3 linked regions of the Homo sapiens genome follow. The protein of the gene in region 2 interacts with the protein of the main gene of each other region in a biochemical or structural test. Each region holds a gene or a part of one and is shown on either strand. Other genes may lie near its edges. The genes, in order: PRKCI, ADAP1 and PRKD1.

The links.
Region 1: the proteins of ADAP1 (region 2) and PRKCI form a complex in vitro, tested with the Homo sapiens proteins (one study listed by BioGRID).
Region 3: the proteins of ADAP1 (region 2) and PRKD1 form a complex in vitro, tested with the Homo sapiens proteins (one study listed by BioGRID).

The regions. Positions count from the first base shown.
Region 1 is NC_000003.12:170,225,335-170,232,447, reverse strand, and holds part of PRKCI (protein kinase C iota type), read right to left. Parts: intron 1-7,113.
Region 2 is NC_000007.14:902,627-909,739, forward strand, and holds part of ADAP1 (arf-GAP with dual PH domain-containing protein 1), read right to left. Parts: intron 2,547-7,113; coding exon 2,434-2,546; intron 1,647-2,433; coding exon 1,500-1,646; intron 1-1,499. UniProt on the Homo sapiens protein: GTPase-activating protein for the ADP ribosylation factor family. Binds phosphatidylinositol 3,4,5-trisphosphate (PtdInsP3) and inositol 1,3,4,5-tetrakisphosphate (InsP4). Regulates the incorporation of CD63 and CD9 into multivesicular bodies.
Region 3 is NC_000014.9:29,575,890-29,581,871, reverse strand, and holds the end of PRKD1 (serine/threonine-protein kinase D1), read left to right. Parts: intron 1-1,781; exon of another isoform or gene 1,782-1,907; intron 1,908-3,511; coding exon 3,512-3,597; intron 3,598-4,415; coding exon 4,416-4,634; 3' UTR 4,635-5,393; downstream 5,394-5,982.

The sequences.
Region 1 (7,113 bases), on a different chromosome or scaffold from region 2:
GCTGCAGTGAGCTGTGACTATGTCATTGCACTCTAGCCTGGGTGATGGAGGAAGACACTGACTCAAAAAATGAAAAATAAATGAAAATAAATGAGTGCAGCCAGGCAAGGTGGCTCATGCCATAATCCCAGCACTTTGAAAGGCCAATGTGGGAGGATCGCTTCGGTACAGGAGTTCGAGGCCTGCCTGGGCAACACAGGGAGACCTTGTCTCTACAAAAAAATTAAAAATTAGCCAGACATAGTGGTGTGTGCCTACAGTCCCAACTACTTGGGAGGCTGAGGTAGGAGGACTGCGTGAGCCTGGGCAGTTAAGGCTGCAGTGAGCTGTGATTACACCACTGTACTCAGCCTGGGTGACAGAGTAGAAATGTGCCTCAAAAAAAAAAAAAGTGCAAAATACTTATCATGGTTCTTTTTCTTTTGTTCCACTTTTTTCAGTTGAGTTTTTTTTGAGACAGAGTCTCGCTCTGTCACCCAGGTTGAAGTGCAGTGGCACAATTACAGGCGTGAGCCACCACACTCGGCCTCAGTAACATTTCTGAATAACACTAACTTTAATTCTTTAAAAGCTTTTTTCTTTAATTGACAGAAATTTTTCTATTATATTTCACTAAGATAAGAGATTATTACTATAATTCAATACTGTCTAGAAAATTCTAGCCTATGGCTAAAAATAAATAAGGCTGGGCGCAGTGGCTCACACCTGTAATCCTAGCACTTTGGGAGGCCAAGGTGGGTGGATTACCTGAGGTCAGGCGTTCGAGACCAGTCTGGCCAACATGGCGAATCCCCATCTCTACTAAAACTACAAAAATTAGCCAGGTGTGGTGGTGCACGCCTGTAATCCTAGCTACTCAGGAGGCTGAGGCAGGAGAATCACTTGAACTTGGGACGCGGAGGTTGCAGTGAGCCGAGATCACGCCACTACACTCCAGCCTGGGCGACAGAGTGAGACTCTGTCTCAAAAAACATAAAATAAATAATAAATAAATAAATAAGATATAGAAAAGAAGAGGCAAAATTGCTACTTGCAGATGACATTATCTAGCTTAAAAATTCTAAGACAGTTAAATTATTAGTAAGGTGGAAAGTTTAATTTAAACATACAAAAAGAAAACAGTATGTAATAGGTCTACAAGAAGACCCCATTCACAAAAGCACATGATTATAAAATATATAGGAATAGGCCGGGCACGGTGGCTCAAGCCTGTAATCTCAACACTCCGGGAGGCCGAGGCAGATGGATCACCTGAGGTAAGGAGTTCCAGACCAGCCTGGCCAACATGGTGAAACCCCATTTTCACTAAAAATACAAAAATTAGCCAGGCATGGTAGCGCCTTGCCTGTAATCCCAGCTACTTGAGAGACTGAGACTGGAGAATCGCTTGAACCTGGGAGGCGGAGGTTGCAGTGAGCCAAGATCACGCCACTGCGCTCCAGCCTGGGTGACAGTGCAAGGCTCCATCTCAAAAAAAAAAAAAACAAAAAAAAAAAATTAAATAATGAATCAAGCCATTCCATAACATATATCAAAGTTAACTATAATATTACAATAATTAAACCAATAGTGGTATGTGCAAAAATAGATCTCTCCCCTAAAATCAATGAAACAATAGAAAGTACCTACGCACATTGTGGGAAATTTAGTACATAACAGAGTTACCATTTCAAATCAGTGGTGAAAGGACAATCTGCCCAATAATGGTATTAGAATAAATTTTGGAGAAAAAAAAAGTTGTGTCAGTACCCTATAAATGACTAAACCCCAAAATACCAGATTCACTGAAAAGATAATCACTTTAAAAGTTTCATAATAAGCCAGGCGCAGTGGCTCACGCCTAAAATCCCAGCACTTCGGGAGGCCACAGCGGGTGAATCACTTGAGGTCACGAGTTTGGGACCAGCCTGGCCAACATGGCAAAACCCTGTCTCTACTAAAAATAAAAAATTAGCCGGACATGGTGGCGCATGCCTGTAATCCCAGCTACTTGGGAGGCTGAGGCAGGAGAATCACTTCAACCCAGGAGGCAGAGGCTGCAGTGAGCCAGGATCGTGCCACTGCACTCCAGCCTGGGCGACTGAGCAAGACCTTGTCTCAAAAAACAAACAAAAATTAGCCGGGTGTTGTGGCGTGCGCCTATAATCCCAGCTACTTAGGAGGCTGAGGCAGGAGGATTGTTAGAACCCAGGAGGCAAAGGTTGCAGTAAGACGAGATCACGCCACTGGGTTCTACCCTGGGCAACAAAGCAAGACTCTGTCTCAAAAAAAAAAAAAAAAAAGTTGCATAATAGAAGAAAAATAGAATATTTTTAGATGAAAAACACTTTTACCTAAGACAGTAAATCCAGAAACTATCAAGGAAATTTTTAAAAAGGACAGGTTTGATGACATAAAAACGAAAAACTCCAGACTAGCAACAGATTGGGGAAATGCTGGCAACTTTAACAAAATGTCAATGTCCTGTCAACAAATTAATAAGAAAAATAATACAATAGAAAATGGGTAAAATAGGAACAATCCAGAAGAAATACAAATGATCATTAATATATAAAAGATACTTGTAAAAATAAATTACCATTTTTTGCCAATCTGACAGTCAAAAATTTAAAAGACAGATAACATGCAATGGGAATATAAGGCAGAAGCTTCACTAGTCCTGTTGTTAAGAATGTAAATTAAGCTCTTTTGGGAAACAATATCATATTTCAAGATAGGCATATCTTTGACCATATTTACAAGAATATGTATTAAATATAAGGAGGTTCCTTCAACATTATTTGAAATAGTGAGTTGATGAAGACAACTTTAAATGTTCATCAATCCGAAAAAAGATTAAACATATTATGGTGGCTGGGCGCAATGGCTCATGCCTGTAATTTCTACACTTTGAGAGGCCGAGGCAGGAGAATCACTTGAGCACAGGAGCTTGAGACCAGCCCCGTCCCTACAAAACATATTAAAAAAAATTAGCTGAGCCTAGTGGCGTGAGCTAATCCTAGCTACTCAGGAGGCTGAGGTGGGAGGACTGCTTGAACCCAGAGTGGTTGAGGCTGCAGAGGGCCTAGATCATGCCACTGCACTCCAGCGTAGGCAACAGAATCAGACTCTGTCTCTTAAAACAACAACAACAACTGTAGAACACTGTATTACCAACTATAAAGAGGTCTGTCTACCCTGGAATGAAAAGATGACCACGATTTTTAAAATCAAGTTGCAGATGCATGTGTGGAAATATGAACTCATTTATTGGAAAAATAAAAGGGTATGTCTGTGTGTGTGTATGCACATACATATCTATACTTATAAATATACCGATATGATATAGAATATCCCTAACTGTTAACAATGGCTATCTCTAGAAAGTGGGAGTGAGACAGCCATAAAAAATAATGAAATCACGTCTTCTACACCAGCATGGATGGAACTGAAGGCCATTATCCCTAGTCAAAAAAATCAGAAACAAAAAGCCAGATACCACATATTCTCACTTATAAGTGAGAGCTAAACAAAGGGTACACATGGACATAAAGAGGGAATAGTAGACATTGGAGACTACAAAAGGTGGGAGGGGGGTGAGGGTTGAAAAATACCTATCGGGTACAGGTAATTTTCTGGGTTTTACTGTTTACTGTTCCGGTGATGGGTACACTAAGTGACCAGACTTCATGGCTACATGATACAAACATGTAAGAAAGAAAGAAATCTGCACTTGTACCCTTTAAATATATAAAAATAAACTAATAAAATAAAATAAGGTGGGAGTGAGAGACTACAGGGGAACTTTATATGTGTGTGTATGTATATGTGTGTGTGTGTGTGTGTGTGTGTATATATATATATATTTGTGTGTGTGTATGTCTGTGTGTGTGTGAGACAGGGTCTCACTCTGTTGCCCAGGCTGGAGTGCAGTGGTGCAATCACAGCTCACTGCAGCCTTGACTTCCTGGCCTCAGGTGATTCTCCCACCTCGCCCTCCTAGTAGCTAGGACTACAGGCTAATTTTTTTGTAGAGATAGGGTTTCACCACATTCAGCCCAGGCTGGTCTCCAATTCCTGGGCTCAAGTGATTCACCTGCCCTGACCTCCCAAAGTGCTGGGATTACAGGCATGAACCACCATACCCAGCCTCTTTCTGTATTTCTATATTTTTAAAATTTAGTTTTAGTGCCTTGCCTTTGTGATCTGTATTTGGCCACTGGTGTCATTTTTGTTTCTATTATCGTTCTCAGCCACATTCCTACATAGGTTAGCTGTCAAGCACAGTGCTTGCAACACAGAGTAGACAGACAATAAATAATTGCTCCATTCTTTCTGACATTTCCTCCTGAATGCCTCATAAACACCTAGAACTCAAAATTCAGTGAATTGTTCCAGCCAATTAATTAACTTCTCCCACAAATCTCTTCCACATTCCCCAGTCTCTCTTAAACGAGAAACCTATGAGTTGTCCAACTCCCGTCACCCCTACAAGACTATCTTTAATTCTACTGATACTACCCCTTAAAATTTCCACCGAATCCATACACTCTTTTCTCTCTCCTTAAAATATCTCATCTGGACTACTTCAAAAGCCTCCAAATTAGTTTCATCCATCACCAATCCATCTCCCATACTAATTTCAAGTGTTATCTTTCTAAAATGCAAATCTGATCATGTATTTCTCTTACTTAGAATTTTCATCAATGAGAAAAAGTCTAAACTCTGCAGTATGACATTCAAGGGTCTTTACAATCTAGCCCCTGTGAACTTTCTTAGCCTCATTTCTCATCAGTGCCCACTTCATACTTTATATCCTAATAAGGAATGAATATGAGACTAACAGCCAAAGTGATCTTAATTCTGCAAACTTACCATGTGGTTGTTTAATGCCTATAACACCCACCTAACATCATTATTCACCAGGCAAACTCCTAGTTATCCTTTAAAAGCCTCAGACATTTCCTCTAGGAAGGCTTCCATCACCCCAAACTCCTCCCCAACGTCTATTCCTGCAAATACCTTACATAGGTACTTCAAATTAAATTGTTTCTATTGTAACTCTTATATGTCCTTCCCTCCACAAGTCTCTTAATTCCTTAAAGGCAGAGCCTTACCTACCTCTACATTCTCTGTGCCTACGACAGCATCATGTGCCTGGATTACGGACGTTCAACAATATTTACTAAACTCAGTTTGAATGATCTCTGGTTATATTTGAAATCTTAAGCAAGACTGGAATTTTTAAAATCTATGTTTAAATTAGGCTCATTTCAATCATAAAAAAAACAGACACTAAAGTTGTAAAAGGAGGGCTGCAGTTGCATTAGAAAGCCATCATGAACTAAGGACCTGTGGGGAGAATTTTTCTGTGCAGAGTTGCTCCTTTCTCCTTTGCTTCCTCAGTTTCTGCTTCTTCACATCTTTCATTTGCACATTGTCAGTTCTGGCCTCGCCAGACTCTCCCTCCAACTCCAGCTTCAGTTCCCAGTGCTGACCAATTTTATCTCCATATTTTCTCATTCAAATTTCTGAGGGTTTTTTGTGTTTGGTTTGGGTTTTTTGGCACCAGGCTAGCATGCTCTATTTTTTTCTCTCTTTGGCCAAGCTATGGATCAGCTGCCCTAGGATTAGGTGCCATGGCTGAAGCTCTAAGACCAATTAGCTAACATCCCCCCAACCCTCAAGATACCACTTGTATTTCCTCAGAACCATTACTAAAGTATATTGCTAAAATAATCTTGCATTTCTTTCAAAAACAAGTCTTGCCAAGACTTGTTCACAGTAAGAAAAATCCTACATACTTCTTCACTGAAGCAGCTATTCCAAATATGCAAAGAGTTAATCTTTTATTTCTAGATGTGCACAGAAGGAATCCTCTGTATTGTTATTACTACTTGACAGCAGCGGTTTAAAAAGAACTTTCACAAGCTTTCTGCAAAAATTTCCATACATATATAATGTAAAGAAATGAGCAGTCCAGATGTTGCCTTGTTAAAGTCTATCCCATAATAGCAAGTAATTTTATATAAGGATAAGCACATACATTGACAGTTTATCACTAATTAATGAAACCTGTTTCTCTTCCTCCAAACTACTAGCACTAGGTAATAACTGAAGGCCCCTCACTGAAAAGCTTCCTTGCTAGGAAAAGACGGGTGCAGGCCATGAGAAAGGCATCTAAGTAAGATGTGGTGTCCAATAAAATTGAATTTTCAGTGCTATTAATCTCTTGCTTAAAAACTAGATGTAAATTGGCTGGGCAAGATGGCTCATTCCTGTAATCCCAACACTTTGGGAGACCGAGGTGGGTGGATCACTTGAGGTCAGAAGTTGGGAGACCAACCTGGCCAACATGGTGAAAACCCGTCTCTACTAAAATACAAAAATTAGCTGGGCGTGGTGGTGGGCGCCTGTAGTCCCACCTACTCGGGAGGCAGCCGCAGGAGAATCCCTTGAACCTGGGAGGCGGAGGTTGCAATGAGCCGAGATCACGCCACTGCACTCCAGCCCAGGTGACAGAGCGAGACTCCATCTCCAAAAAAATAAATAAATAAAATAAAATAAAATAAAAATTAGAAAAAAATTAAATGTTATTAGATCTAGAGAGATTACACGTTTTCACTGAGATCAAGCTTAACAGAATAATAACACTATACACATCTTTGAAAAGAGAGGGCAATTTTTTCACTAAAAAAAATGCTGGCTATTAAATGAGTCAACATTCACTGGAAAGAAATATTGTTAGAAAAGGGTAGTGGAGCCAGGTACAGTGGCTCACACCTGTAATCCCAGCACTTTGAGAGGCTGAGGCAGGAGGATCACTTGAGCCCAGGAGTTTGGGATTAGCCTGGGCAACACGGTGAGACCTTGTCTCTATTTAAAAAAAAAAAAAAGAAAAGAAAAGTGTAGAGGGATAGAGGAAATGCTATGTAATAATGGCCCTTCAGAAGATTGGAGAGAAAAGAAAACTTTTTCAAATGCAGAATGTTCTCACATTTCTTGGTATAAAGGAAGGATTTTCTATTTTAAAATCAGGTAGGTGTTCTAGTTAGCCAACCTGTTTATTAACTATCCTTGTCCGTGACTCATTTTAGCTTCATCTATATTAATGAGCAGCTGACTATGTAATAC
Region 2 (7,113 bases):
AGCACCAATAACAGGAGTTTCAGAAAATGAGAACAGGGAAAGTGGAGGGAGGAAATCATTAGATAAGAAAGCAATCCCTGACCTCATGGAAACCAGTAACTGGACTGGAAGGGCCACCCTGGGCCTGTACCCAGCACATGAAAAGACGAGGGACCCTTGCCAACACACGCACAGCATTGGAGAATTTCAAAACCGCGGGACAAACGTACTAGGATGGAGGAATCCGTGGTGCAAAGCCTTCAGAATTAGCAGGAAAATTAATTCCAACCTAGAATTCTATATCTAGCCACAGTCTAAGCCAGGCAGGAGGTAGAACAGTCCAAGGTGCCAGGTGACCCCTTTCCCTCCAGGCACATCACTTCTACCAAGAGGAATAAGTAAACGAGAAAGACGTAGGACCCGGGCAGCAGGGCTCCACCCAGGAACCAGATGAGGCTGCAGGAGCGAGATCTCCAGGCCGTGGGAGTCGCAGGCTCCTGGTGCCCGACTGCCTCCAGAGACAACAGTCTGCGGAGAGTCTGCGGCAACACATGGTCAACTGCGGCAAGGAACACAGCCGCTTACTGTGGGAAGAGCGATCACAGCGTGCTCTGAGGCCAGGGGCTGCACCCGACTCGGCCCCCTAACAAACCCAGGGTCAGATGCCAGCGGAGCACGGCAGGCAGGGGACGGGCACGTGGGAGGGGATGGAAAGAGCTGGAACCTCTACTTCCACGTGGGAAGTTGTCAGATGGTGCCTAAAGTGGGTAAATCTGCAGCGACACCGGCAGCTTATTTTTGGATATGGGGACCAATTCCCAACGGGGGTTAGGAGGGACCTCAAACTTCTGTTTCTCAAGATTTAGGAACGATATAGCGCTTTAGACCGTGTGCACACAGACGTGTGATAAACATAGAAACAAGAACCTAAGTAACAAAGAGGCTGGGCCCACCGCTGCGCCCCCTGCAGCCTGGCCCAAAGACAAAAGGATAGCTTTTGTGGGGGTTTTACCTGGGTTCCCCCCAAGCCCTCCAGAGATGCGGGGTACACCCACCCTCCCCGCCGCCACACCAAGGGCAGCCAAAGGAACCCTACCCAAACCACCCCAGAGCCGGCTACCGTCCACATCTCCTCCCCGTAGGACCCCAGTTCCCCCCGAGGTCCCCTCTGGGCATTGTGGGGGCGGTGGATCCTCTAGCCCGAGCTGGCAGCCCCCACTGACAGGGCCAAGCTGGGTGGCCCCAGAGACAGCGTGGTGATCCGGCTCCTGGGCAGCCCGGCCCTGGGAAGCTGCCTTCCTGCACCTGTCTTCCCATGCTGCCCGGCGCCAGTGCCCACACTCCCACACGTCCAAGCACCCGCCTTCCCACGCTGCCCAGCCCGACTTCCCGCCTTCTCATGCCGCCTAGCTCAAGTGCCTACCCTCCCGTACCGTCCAAGCACCCACCTTCCTGCGCCACCCGGGCCTGAGGGCCCACCCTCCTGTGCCACCCGGGCCCGAGTGCTCGCCAGCACCCACCTTCCCGTCCTCATGGTAGATGAAGATGTTACGGGTGCTGTTGTCCTTCAGGTAGGTGACCTGCAGGCCGTGGGGGTGGCCGATCTTGGCCGGCTGGAAGGTGGCGTTCAGGTGCTCGATCTTCATCACGGCCTTGGGCTCCTTGGCCTGAGAAGGGGTGGGGTCTAAGCACCTCACAGGGGCCGTCGTCCAAGCTCAAGGGAGCAGGAAGGGCAGACCCTGTGGGTGCTGGCGGCGCACCTGCTGTGCTGTGTGGCTTTGGGCAAGTTACTTAAGCGCTCTGAGCCTTGGCCTCCCGGTCTGTAAGCAGAAGGTAACAGCACCTCCCTCCCAGGAGTGATGGGGACCTCAACGACACTGTGCAGGTGGCACTTGACATCAGACACTGCACCTCCCTCCCCGGGGGCAGCCCCGGGCCCCACACGGCACGGCAGCTCCCACAGGGGCAGGCCCCAGCCACCAGCCCACCTCCAGCCAGTGCCCGCCACGGCTCAGGGCGGGTGCTTCTGACCATCAGCCCATGGGTCTGGGGCCACCTTGTGAAGACCCCACTGTTCTTGCCAATGTGTTTGTCCTGTCCCAGTCCAGTCTCCCCAGGGTACCTCCAGGAAAACTAGGGGCTTTCTGGGGTCCTGGCTGGCTCCAGAGGGGCCCAGTGACTAGGTTCTCCCTCTCCCACGGCTGGGCCTGAGTTCAGGGGGCCCCGCCCGGCCGCCCAGGCTCCTGGAAAGCCTCAGCTGCCCCACCCTGGGGGACGCTGGGTCCGGCACACAGAGGCTCAGCCCAACACAGGCCGGTTCTCCTGGAGCGTCCCCATCGGGGGGGGCAGCAGGGAGGGCAGCTGCGGATGGACGCGGCCACCACAGGCCCCAGTGTGGGAGGCCGGGATGCCGCCCTGGGACAGGCCCCCACCCCACCCCCGTCTGTGACTCACATCATTTCTGTTGAAATACTTCAGAGCACCCTCTCGTTCTGTCAGCACAAACTTCCGGCTCAAAAACTGCCCGTTGTCCCGGCCACGCTTCCAGAGAAAACCCTCACGGTACCCTGTGGGGGAAAGGGGACACGAGTCGGTGACAGTGGATGGGGGGGAGGAAACAAAAGGAGTGACGATGGACAGGACAGAGGGGACATGGGGAGAAGACACGGGGGACACGGACGGGGGACACGGACAGGGGGAGACGGACGGGGAGAGGGGACATGGAGGAGACAGGGAGATAGGAAGATGGGCAGGGAAAGGGAAAGGGAAAGGAGAAAGGAGAAAGGAGAAAGGAGAAAGGAGAAAGGGAGAAAGAGAAAGGAGAAAGGAGAAAGGGAGAAAGGGAGAAAGGGAAAGGAGAAAGGAGAAAGGGAAAGGAGAAAGGAGAAGGGAGAAGGGAGAAGGGAGAAGGGAGAAGGGAGAAGGGAGAAGGGAGAAGGGAGAAGGGAGAAAGGAGAAAGGAGAAAGGAGAAAGGAGAAAGGAGAAAGGAGAAAGGAGAAAGGAGAAAGGAGAAAGGGAAAGGAGAAAGGGAAAGGAGAAAGGGAAAGGAGAAAGGAGAAAGGAGAAAGGGAAAGGAGAAAGGAGAAAGGAGAAAGGAGAAAGGAGAAAGGAGAAAGGGAAAGGAGAAAGGGAAAGGAGAAGGGAGAAGGGAGAAGGGAGAAAGGAGAAAGGAGAAAGGAGAAAGGAGAAAGGAGAAAGGAGAAAGGAGAAGGGAGAAGGGAGAAGGGAGAAGGGAGAAGGGAGAAGGGAGAAGGGAGAAGGGAGAAGGGAGAAAGGAGAAAGGAGAAAGGAGAAAGGAGAAAGGGAAAGGAGAAAGGGAGAAAGGAGAAAGGGAGAAAGGAGAAAGGGAGAAAGGAGAAAGGGAGAAAGGAGAAAGGGAAAGGAGAAAGGAGAAAGGAGAAAGGAGAAAGGGAAAGGAGAAAGGAGAAAGGGAAAGGAGAAAGGAGAAAGGAGAAAGGGAGAAAGGAGAAAGGGAAAGGAGAAAGGGAGAAAGGAGAAAGGGAGAAAGGAGAAAGGGAGAAAGGAGAAAGGGAGAAAGGAGAAAGGGAAAGGAGAAAGGAGAAAGGAGAAAGGGAAAGGAGAAAGGAGAAAGGAGAAAGGAGAAAGGAGAAAGGGAAAGGAGAAAGGGAGAAAGGAGAAAGGGAGAAAGGAGAAAGGGAGAAAGGAGAAAGGGAGAAAGGAGAAAGGGAAAGGAGAAAGGAGAAAGGAGAAAGGAGAAAGGGAAAGGAGAAAGGAGAAAGGGAAAGGAGAAAGGGAGAAAGAGAAAGGAGAAAGGAGAAAGGAGAAAGGAGAAAGGGAAAGGAGAAAGGGAGAAAGGGAAAGGAGAAAGGAGAAAGGAGAAAGGAGAAAGGGAAAGGAGAAAGGAGAAAGGAGAAAGGAGAAAGGGAAAGGAGAAAGGGAGAAAGGAGAAAGGAGAAAGGGAAAGGAGAAAGGAGAAGGGAGAAAGGGAGAAAGGGAAAGGAGAAAGGGAAAGGAGAAAGGAGAAAGGAGAAGGGAGAAAGGGAGAAAGGGAAAGGAGAAAGGAGAAAGGAGAAAGGGAAAGGAGAAAGGGGGCGGGAAAGGGGACATGGACAGGGGACACGGGGGACATGGACATGGGGGACGGGACATCGGGGACGGGACATGGGGGACAGAGTACATAGGGGACATGGACAGGGGACATGGGGGACAGGGGACACGGGGGACGGGACAGGGGACATGGGGGGACATGGGTCAGATGGTGATGGTGGATGGTTGGTGAGGGGATATGACAGTGGACCAGCGCTGTTGGCTGCAACCCTGGCCCAAGCCAGCCTGAGGACGGCCTGGATGAGCGGGACTCCAGCTGTCCTTTACTGGCCCCCAGGGACCCTCCCCATCCTGAGTGGACATGGCCAGAGCCACCATGGGCAGAGGCAGGGCTGGGTCCAACCTCGTGCTGCCCGGGAGGACCAGGCTGGCCTCCTCCCTCCTCCCTCAGCCGTCCGCAGCTGCTGGGTCCAGGTGGTGCCATCCCCTCTTTTTTCAGGAAAGCTCATCTGAGGGGAGTCCAGCTCAAGCCCTCATCTCCGCCTGTGGCCTCACGCACACCACACACAGCCACAGAAAAGTAGCCCGGGCATCCCCCTGGGAGCCTAAGCACCTGGACACGCCACCTTCTATGGCAAAACACACCGTGCACGGGTGGTTAGGACGCTGCTGTGGCAGACGATCACAGGGGAGGGAGGCAGAGATATGAGGACAGGAGGGAAGGGGACGTGGCCGTGGAAACTGAGGCCAGAGGGGGCCCCAGAGCCCAGGAGCACCAGGGAGAGGCCAGAGGACCCGTCCTGAGCCCAGAACCAGCTCTGCCCACTCCGAGTCTCGGGCCCGTGGGATCGTCCTGGAGCTCTGCCAGAGCTGTGGGAGAACAAACACGTGTGGCTTCACGTCACTGAGCTGCGGTCAGTGACCCACGTGTGGCCACTCAGAGGGGCGTTCCCATCCCCCCCAGGCCCCGCTCCCACTTCTGCTCCCTGTCCGTGGTTCCTATCGTTGCCCGTCCTTTCTCCTGCTCTGGAACTCTGTGTCCTGCGGACTCAGATGCAGCTTCTTCTATGGCCCTGGCTGTCCCGCCCCAACAGCATGTGGCTTGCAGCATCCGTGTCCTGGGCTCCGTCTGCCAGGCCTTGGGTCGCGTGCAGGTCCCGCCGTTGGCAGCAGCTGCGTGGCCAGGGTCGAGCAGGTCCTCAGTGGGTGCAGACTCTCCTGGGATCACGGGGCCGTCTGCCAAGCATCCCCAGTGGGCGCCGCCTCTCCGGAGGTCGCGGGGCCGTCTGCCGAGGAGCCGTCTGCCGAGCATCCGTGGCCCCTCCAGGGGTCGCGGGGCCGTCTGCCCAGTGTCCGTGGGCCCTTCCCGGGGTCGTGGGGCCGTCTGCTGAGCATCCGTGGGCCTGTCCGTGACCCCTCAGTGACTTCAGAGAGCACTTGCTTGGGGACAGCATCCCATCCTGCTGGCCATGTGGCCTGGGAGCCCCGGTCATCTGAGGGCAGGGGCTGCTGACCTACGCCACAGGGACGCGAGGGGGCTGTGGGCTCCAGGCGGGGCTAAACAGCCCCCTGCAGCAGCCAACAGGCCAGACAGAGGCTCAGATTGCAGACACCGCCCATCAGCCCTGACCACCAAAGCCCCCTGCTCCCCAGCATCCCCTCCCCAGCTCAGACAGCCCCATCCCGACACCAGAGACCAGGGGCTATTTTCTCTGCTGAGATGCAAGCCATAAAACGCCTGGCGTTGGGGAGGGGACAGCTGGTGCCCTCGGGGAGGGGGCCCTGGGCTGTCTTGGATGGTGCCAGACGGGGCCTGCTCCCCTCACTGCCCGGAGCTCCCCGCTCCCCAAGCCTCTACAAGGCTGCTGCCCCAGCCCCGTGCGCACAGCAGCAGCCAGGAGCCCCCTTCCCATGGAAGAACCCCCTTCTCCTGCTTCTCACTGTGAGAGCGAGGCCACCAGTGTCCCTCAGACCCAAGTAAGGCCTGCTCAGAACGCCTGTTGACTCAGTGAGCCCCTGCCCAGGCACAGCTGGGTGTCCCCACGGCTCTGCCTCCGACATCAGGACCTCTTTGGACGCGGCGCTTCGTGGCTGAGGGTGGACGCCGAGAAGTGCCCGGGGAGGCATCGCAGCAGCGGGCCCAGCGGCGCTTCCCGGCCTCTGCCGCTCACGGCCTTGTGTGCACCCCGGGGAGCCTCCAAGGCGTGCGTGTCCGTGTCACCAATGCAGACGACAAGTTTGGGCCACCTCGCCCACGGGGGTGGAGCTGGCTGGGTCCAGTGTGTCGGTTCCACAGACCCCTGCCCAGGACACAGCGGGGGCCCCTTCCAGCGACCGGGCTCCCTAGGCCACAGGGTGGGGACGCGCCCCTGCCATGCCCGCCGCGCCCAGCAGGTGACAGCAGTGCTCCGGAAGCGCGCAGGCCGCGGGGTCTGGGAGGCCACTGCCCCTCTGCACGCGCGCAGCTGCTCCGGTGTTCTCGGGGTCCAGACGCCAGCGGGAACCCCGGTCCTCCCGACAGCAGGCGCCAGCGGGAACCCCGGTCCTCCCGACAGCAGGCGCCAGCGGGAACCCCGGACCTCCCGACAGCAGGCGCCAGCGGGAACCCCGGTCCTCCCGACAGCAGGCGCCAGCGGGAACCCCGGACCTCCCGACAGCAGGCGCCAGCGGGAACCCCGGTCCTCCCGACAGCAGGCGCCAGCGGGAACCCCGGTCCTCCCGACAGCAGGCGCCAGCGGGAACCCCGGTCCTCCCGACAGCAGGCGCCAGCGGGAACCCCGGTCCTCCCGACAGCAGGCGCCAGCGGGAACCCCGGTCCTCCCGACAGCAGGCGCCAGGACGCCGCATTCCAGGGGCAATGACGACGCAGGAGTGTATTTCAGGACGGCGCTGGCCACGGTCCCGGACGCGCCCCACGCCCAGTCCAGACCTCAGGCTGAGCCTCTGCTCTCCCCATGCCTGGCCAGCCCCTTGGCCTCGCTGGGGAGGGCCAGGACCTCAGGGGCCTGCAGCCCCCAGTCGGCACCAGCAACAGCCAGTGAGACGGGGCTTCTCCCCACAGAGCAGCCCCTCACACGGCAGCGTCCTGGACAGCCGGGTGGGCTGTGGCCAGAAATGGCCATTTT
Region 3 (5,982 bases), on a different chromosome or scaffold from region 2:
TTAGGCCTTATCCTGAAAAAAGTTCTAATAATTGTATTAATACATAGCAGATGGGCTTATTCGGTGTGAGCATGACAGAAAGCTAGGAGAATTAACGATATGAGGCAGAGCTATGGTCACAGAGATGTACATACACATACACACACATCCTTGCGTTCAAGCACATAAAAGTGTGGTGGAAACATAACTAAGAATGTAATTATCATGACTGTAAAAATAAAATGTTAATTTTTGAGATAATTATCCACTTACAATGATAAGTTAATGGCATAATATGGCTGCAGTCTGCCATAGTGTTTAAGAGCACAGGCTTTGAATTCCAGTCCCCCTGGGTTTCAAATTCAGCTGTATTGCCTAGGAGCTGTCTGACTTTGACCAACTTACATGGCCTTTTGAAGCGTCACGTTTTCCTTTTATTAAAATGGAGATTAAAATAATAACTACTTTCAGGGGGTTGTTATAAGGACTAAATAAGAATATGAATGTAATTTTTTAAAAAAGAATGAAAACCCCTCAATCCTAGACTATATGAATAATATATTTGCGTATAATTCAAATTGGCAGTTAGTGAGGAAAATGTTGGTCAGTGATGATCACTGAATTTTAACAGGGACATTGAGTAGAGCTAGTGACTATTAAAATCGAGGTGTACAGGAGGACTAAGCAGGCTGAAAGATCTGAAGGAACTATAGAGGTGAGATTAAGGGGAATGAATCACTGTCTCCAAAGATGTAAAGAACTGTCATATAGAATAAAGTTTTCCATTGCATCTAAAACATAAATAGGACTAATGACAGTAAGTTATAAAAAGAAAACACTTTTTTTTTTTTGCTTTGAGTAGGATATGAATTAAAGGTCAAAGATTCAGAATGGTGTATTGTGTCATGATGTCATCTGTGGTCTGGGGAGGGGCATGCATGTGCCTTTGCAACTAGATTGTGAGCTTTTCGGGGTCAGGGCTTGATCATTAACTTTTTATTTCATAAGTAATTGCCAACAGGAATTAAGGAAGATTTGGTGAATGAACAGATAAATGAATGATTTATACATACATAATACATCTGAGACTATTTTATTACATGAATATTGTATCAATGTAGACATGGCCAGTAAAGAGAATATTGGAAGGAAAAAAGCCTCTAAACTGTGTTCAAAAATGTTTAGTAAAACGCATTTTGGATGGTATAGTTAATGCTGGATTGTATACAACTTGATTAATAAAAAGGATATTTTAAGAGTTCCAGAAAAGTAACAAGCAGAACAGAATTCTCAACTACAAATGACGGACCTATTTTCTCACTAATACCGTGGTCCCAACATTTAGCTATAGGTGCTAACATTTAATAGTTCATTATTTCTGTTGTGTGCTTCCAAAAGCCACAAAATGTATGTATACACACACACACACATTTATTTATACATACACGTTTCTCCTCTAATTCTCTCCTTATATCCTTAACCATTTTCTCTTGGAAGTAGTTGCCATTGCCTTGTTGTGCTTACTCAGGTCACTTGGGTTGGGTACTGTGGCGTAGTCAGACTAATGATTGTATGCTTCATTCAGCAGAACAATTTTTTCATTTTTACTTATTCCATTCCCTTCAGACACTTCTAGTTTCCCCTCTGATAGTACTTCCCTCCCCATTATGCAGTGTGGTTCACTGTTGGGGCCCATTTGGGCACAAACGAGACCTTTTGTTGAGTTACTGTACTCCTGCCTTTCTAATTACAGAATTCCAAACAGAATGAGTGAATTAATGACATGAATTTATTTCCTGCAGTGTCTAGGGCAGTGTAATGCTGCAGCAAGCTTGCAATAGCACATAAGCTCTCCCTTCACTCCTTGTCCTCCATTTTTGCCGGGTGACTTCACAGCAGCAAGAATGGAAGGTGCACTTTACTCACCAGTGAGTAAATCATGTGAATGGATATTTTAAAGCACATGCCCTATACGCAGTTCACAGAACTATACTTTTAAAAGCTCTCTGAGAACACATGCTTGGAATATGAAAATGTACTGAGTACTGTATTTCTTCAGGTATCCTAGGTAAGGCAAGAGTGTATAGGCATAGGCAACATTTAAATGTGTGTTGTTGCATTTCATTTCTCCAAATAATTGTTTGATATTTGACTCTACAGCCCTTCAGGGCAGGCAAATACTTGTAACATTAGCTCCATAGAGATATGGTTCTCAATTACCAAAAGACTGTAGAAGTCACTTTTCTTTGCCTGACACTGGGAAGGATTCTGATTGAAGGAAGCAGTCTTTGTTCCTCTGGTCTCATGTGACAGTCTGTATCTTCAGGTCCATACAGGTTGATGCACACCAAAAAGTGGATTCAAAGCTGCCTATTCAAGACTTGGTGATAGGGAAAGATGAGGAGTTAATTTTCATTTTCGTTTATCAGCTGCCTGTTTGATTAAGATTTTTGGTAGGAAGAGCCATCTTTCAGACATAATGCCTAGGGTAGGTTAAGGGCAAAAATTAACTCTTTGAAATATAAATGCTTCCTATTAGGTTGGCAGATTTCACTAAGCTCTTTTTGGGAAGAAAATGCTAAAATTCAAAAAGAGAAACATGGAAGTTATTACAAGAATGAGAAGTGTGAGGGAATGACTTTAATAAATAATGAACTATTAATGACGTATACTGAAAATATAATGTCCAGAAAAGGAGAGTGAGAACTCCATCACATGATACTGTGGGTAACTAGGATGATTTTCAGACTAGATAACGATGAGTATTACTTTTTCTTCATAAATTACACTCACAGACTCCCCAGTCACAAGCAGAGTACTAGGCCAGAGGGATTGTGGTTCTAACCCCTCAGAGAACATTTCTTGTTAAATAGACTTCTTTCCTGTCTTCCTCTAGAAAGTCTATGAAGGCTGATATAATTCCAATACATTGGTTATTTTTGAAAGCAAAAGCAAAGTGAAAGCAATTAAAGTGTTTTCTTCTTGGGCTGTTGGTTTTCAGGCTCCAAGTTTATCATGAGATATGACCCATGTTATGATGCATTTTTTCCATACAAATATGATGTTCAGATATCTGTCATTTAATTCAATACTGTGTGAACCATTGTGTGTATTCAAACGTTCAGCATGTTTTATAACAAAATTAGTAAATGCTTTATCTTGAATATTAGTTTTATCCTGCCCATATTGTAAGACATATTTAAATGATGTACATATAAACAAAATTTCTAAATTAAAGAAAGTGTTAAAGAGTAGACCAATTGAAATTCATATCATACAATAGACTCTAATACTTCTTCCATAATTACTTCCAACTTCTTCTTTTTTTTTTTTTTTTTTTTTTTTTTTTAGTATCCAAAATAAAATGAAGGCCAAAGTTTCAGTATTCTTAAGAGGATTTTTTTTTTTGGTTCTAGTGCCTTGTCACTATGCTGCATTTAACTGTGTGAAATAGCAGATGTGAAATAAACTATAAATGAATTATGCATATGTTACAGATTTGTCATCTATTTTTACTGGTAATTTTTTTCAGCCATTGATCTTATCAACAATTTGCTGCAAGTAAAAATGAGAAAGCGCTACAGTGTGGATAAGACCTTGAGCCACCCTTGGCTACAGGTAAACAATAATCACTGAGTTTTCTTAGTTGAATGAGCTTCTAAATATTTATAGGATTTTGATATTTAGAAATCTTTTGCAATAATTTTTAAAGTGTGATTATTCTAATATCAATTTATTTGCTCAAATGCATGCAACTTCATAGGATTTAATAACAATTTAGTGTTTCTAAACATTTTTCTCTACCAGGATAATTTGATAGAAGAGATACACGCACGCATATACACACACACACACAGCCCAAAACCAAAAGGCAAAACCAAAAATAAATAAATAAACCAAGGATCATAACAGACCTCAGAGGACCAGATTTCAAAAGCATCTGTATGTGTAATCCTGATAAATGTACAAATAGATGCCCATCTGGTCATGCACTGTACTCATTTAGAAGCTATATTTTTAAATGCTAGGTTATTATATATGGAACAAATGCATGGCAAATACAAAGTATATGGATGTGCTTTATTATTTTCACATCGAATTTAAACTTTAGGAAACTAATACTCTGAAATACTGAAAGATTATTTGTAGGCATTAAATTTCAAAGGAATACTGGCATTCCTGATTGCTTGACTGCAAACATTAATTGCCCACTCTTTGATCCATGCTATCTTATAAACAGTATGTATTTGCAAAGGTTAGACAAATAGGATGGCTTTGGTGCCGACACTGTCACTTGAGGATGCGTGATGAAAGATTCAGCGCTGTTAGAGTGGAAGGAGAAGGGTAACTCATAGATTGCAGAAACTGACATCATATGAAACAGTATGTTGAGTTGTAATGATCTCTATGGTAATATTTTGGAATTTCTTCTTCAGGACTATCAGACCTGGTTAGATTTGCGAGAGCTGGAATGCAAAATCGGGGAGCGCTACATCACCCATGAAAGTGATGACCTGAGGTGGGAGAAGTATGCAGGCGAGCAGGGGCTGCAGTACCCCACACACCTGATCAATCCAAGTGCTAGCCACAGTGACACTCCTGAGACTGAAGAAACAGAAATGAAAGCCCTCGGTGAGCGTGTCAGCATCCTCTGAGTTCCATCTCCTATAATCTGTCAAAACACTGTGGAACTAATAAATACATACGGTCAGGTTTAACATTTGCCTTGCAGAACTGCCATTATTTTCTGTCAGATGAGAACAAAGCTGTTAAACTGTTAGCACTGTTGATGTATCTGAGTTGCCAAGACAAATCAACAGAAGCATTTGTATTTTGTGTGACCAACTGTGTTGTATTAACAAAAGTTCCCTGAAACACGAAACTTGTTATTGTGAATGATTCATGTTATATTTAATGCATTAAACCTGTCTCCACTGTGCCTTTGCAAATCAGTGTTTTTCTTACTGGAGCTTCATTTTGGTAAGAGACAGAATGTATCTGTGAAGTAGTTCTGTTTGGTGTGTCCCATTGGTGTTGTCATTGTAAACAAACTCTTGAAGAGTCGATTATTTCCAGTGTTCTATGAACAACTCCAAAACCCATGTGGGAAAAAAATGAATGAGGAGGGTAGGGAATAAAATCCTAAGACACAAATGCATGAACAAGTTTTAATGTATAGTTTTGAATCCTTTGCCTGCCTGGTGTGCCTCAGTATATTTAAACTCAAGACAATGCACCTAGCTGTGCAAGACCTAGTGCTCTTAAGCCTAAATGCCTTAGAAATGTAAACTGCCATATATAACAGATACATTTCCCTCTTTCTTATAATACTCTGTTGTACTATGGAAAATCAGCTGCTCAGCAACCTTTCACCTTTGTGTATTTTTCAATAATAAAAAATATTCTTGTCAAAATATGTGTCCACCTCATTGAACTATTTTCATTCATCGTTCACACTAGGGTTTTCAGGCCAACTAGGAGCAGAAGTGTCTGCTCAAAAAGCAGGAAAAAAGCTCATAGTGTAGAATGTAGTTTTATCTACTCTGAAGCAGTAAAAGTATGTTTCAAAGTGGAGTGAGGCCTTCCTGTCTTGCATGTGGTTTAATTTCTAATAGAAAGGAAGGCTTTCAAAGTGAAAAGTGACCAAAGCCAAACAGAGTGCTTGGAGGCATAGTTAGGATGACTCTGAGTAGTTGGAATATTGCAAATAGCATCTTAATGTAGCTTCCTGATTTAGTCAATATAAGCTAGAGATTTATTAGAATACCAGATCTGGTTTCTTTTCATATGATCTAAAGATGGTTCTGAGGTGAACCAAAAAATACTAGAAAGTAATCCCTAAACAGAAAGGCATCTCAAGTGAAGTTCTACAGCCTGGAGAAGACAAATTGGACCTAGCAGATTTGAGGTATATAATATGAATAATGTGGGCTGTTTTCCTTAGTAGCAGGATGGGAATAGCATACTATGTAACAGAAAAAAAATTGTAATTAATGTTTGGAA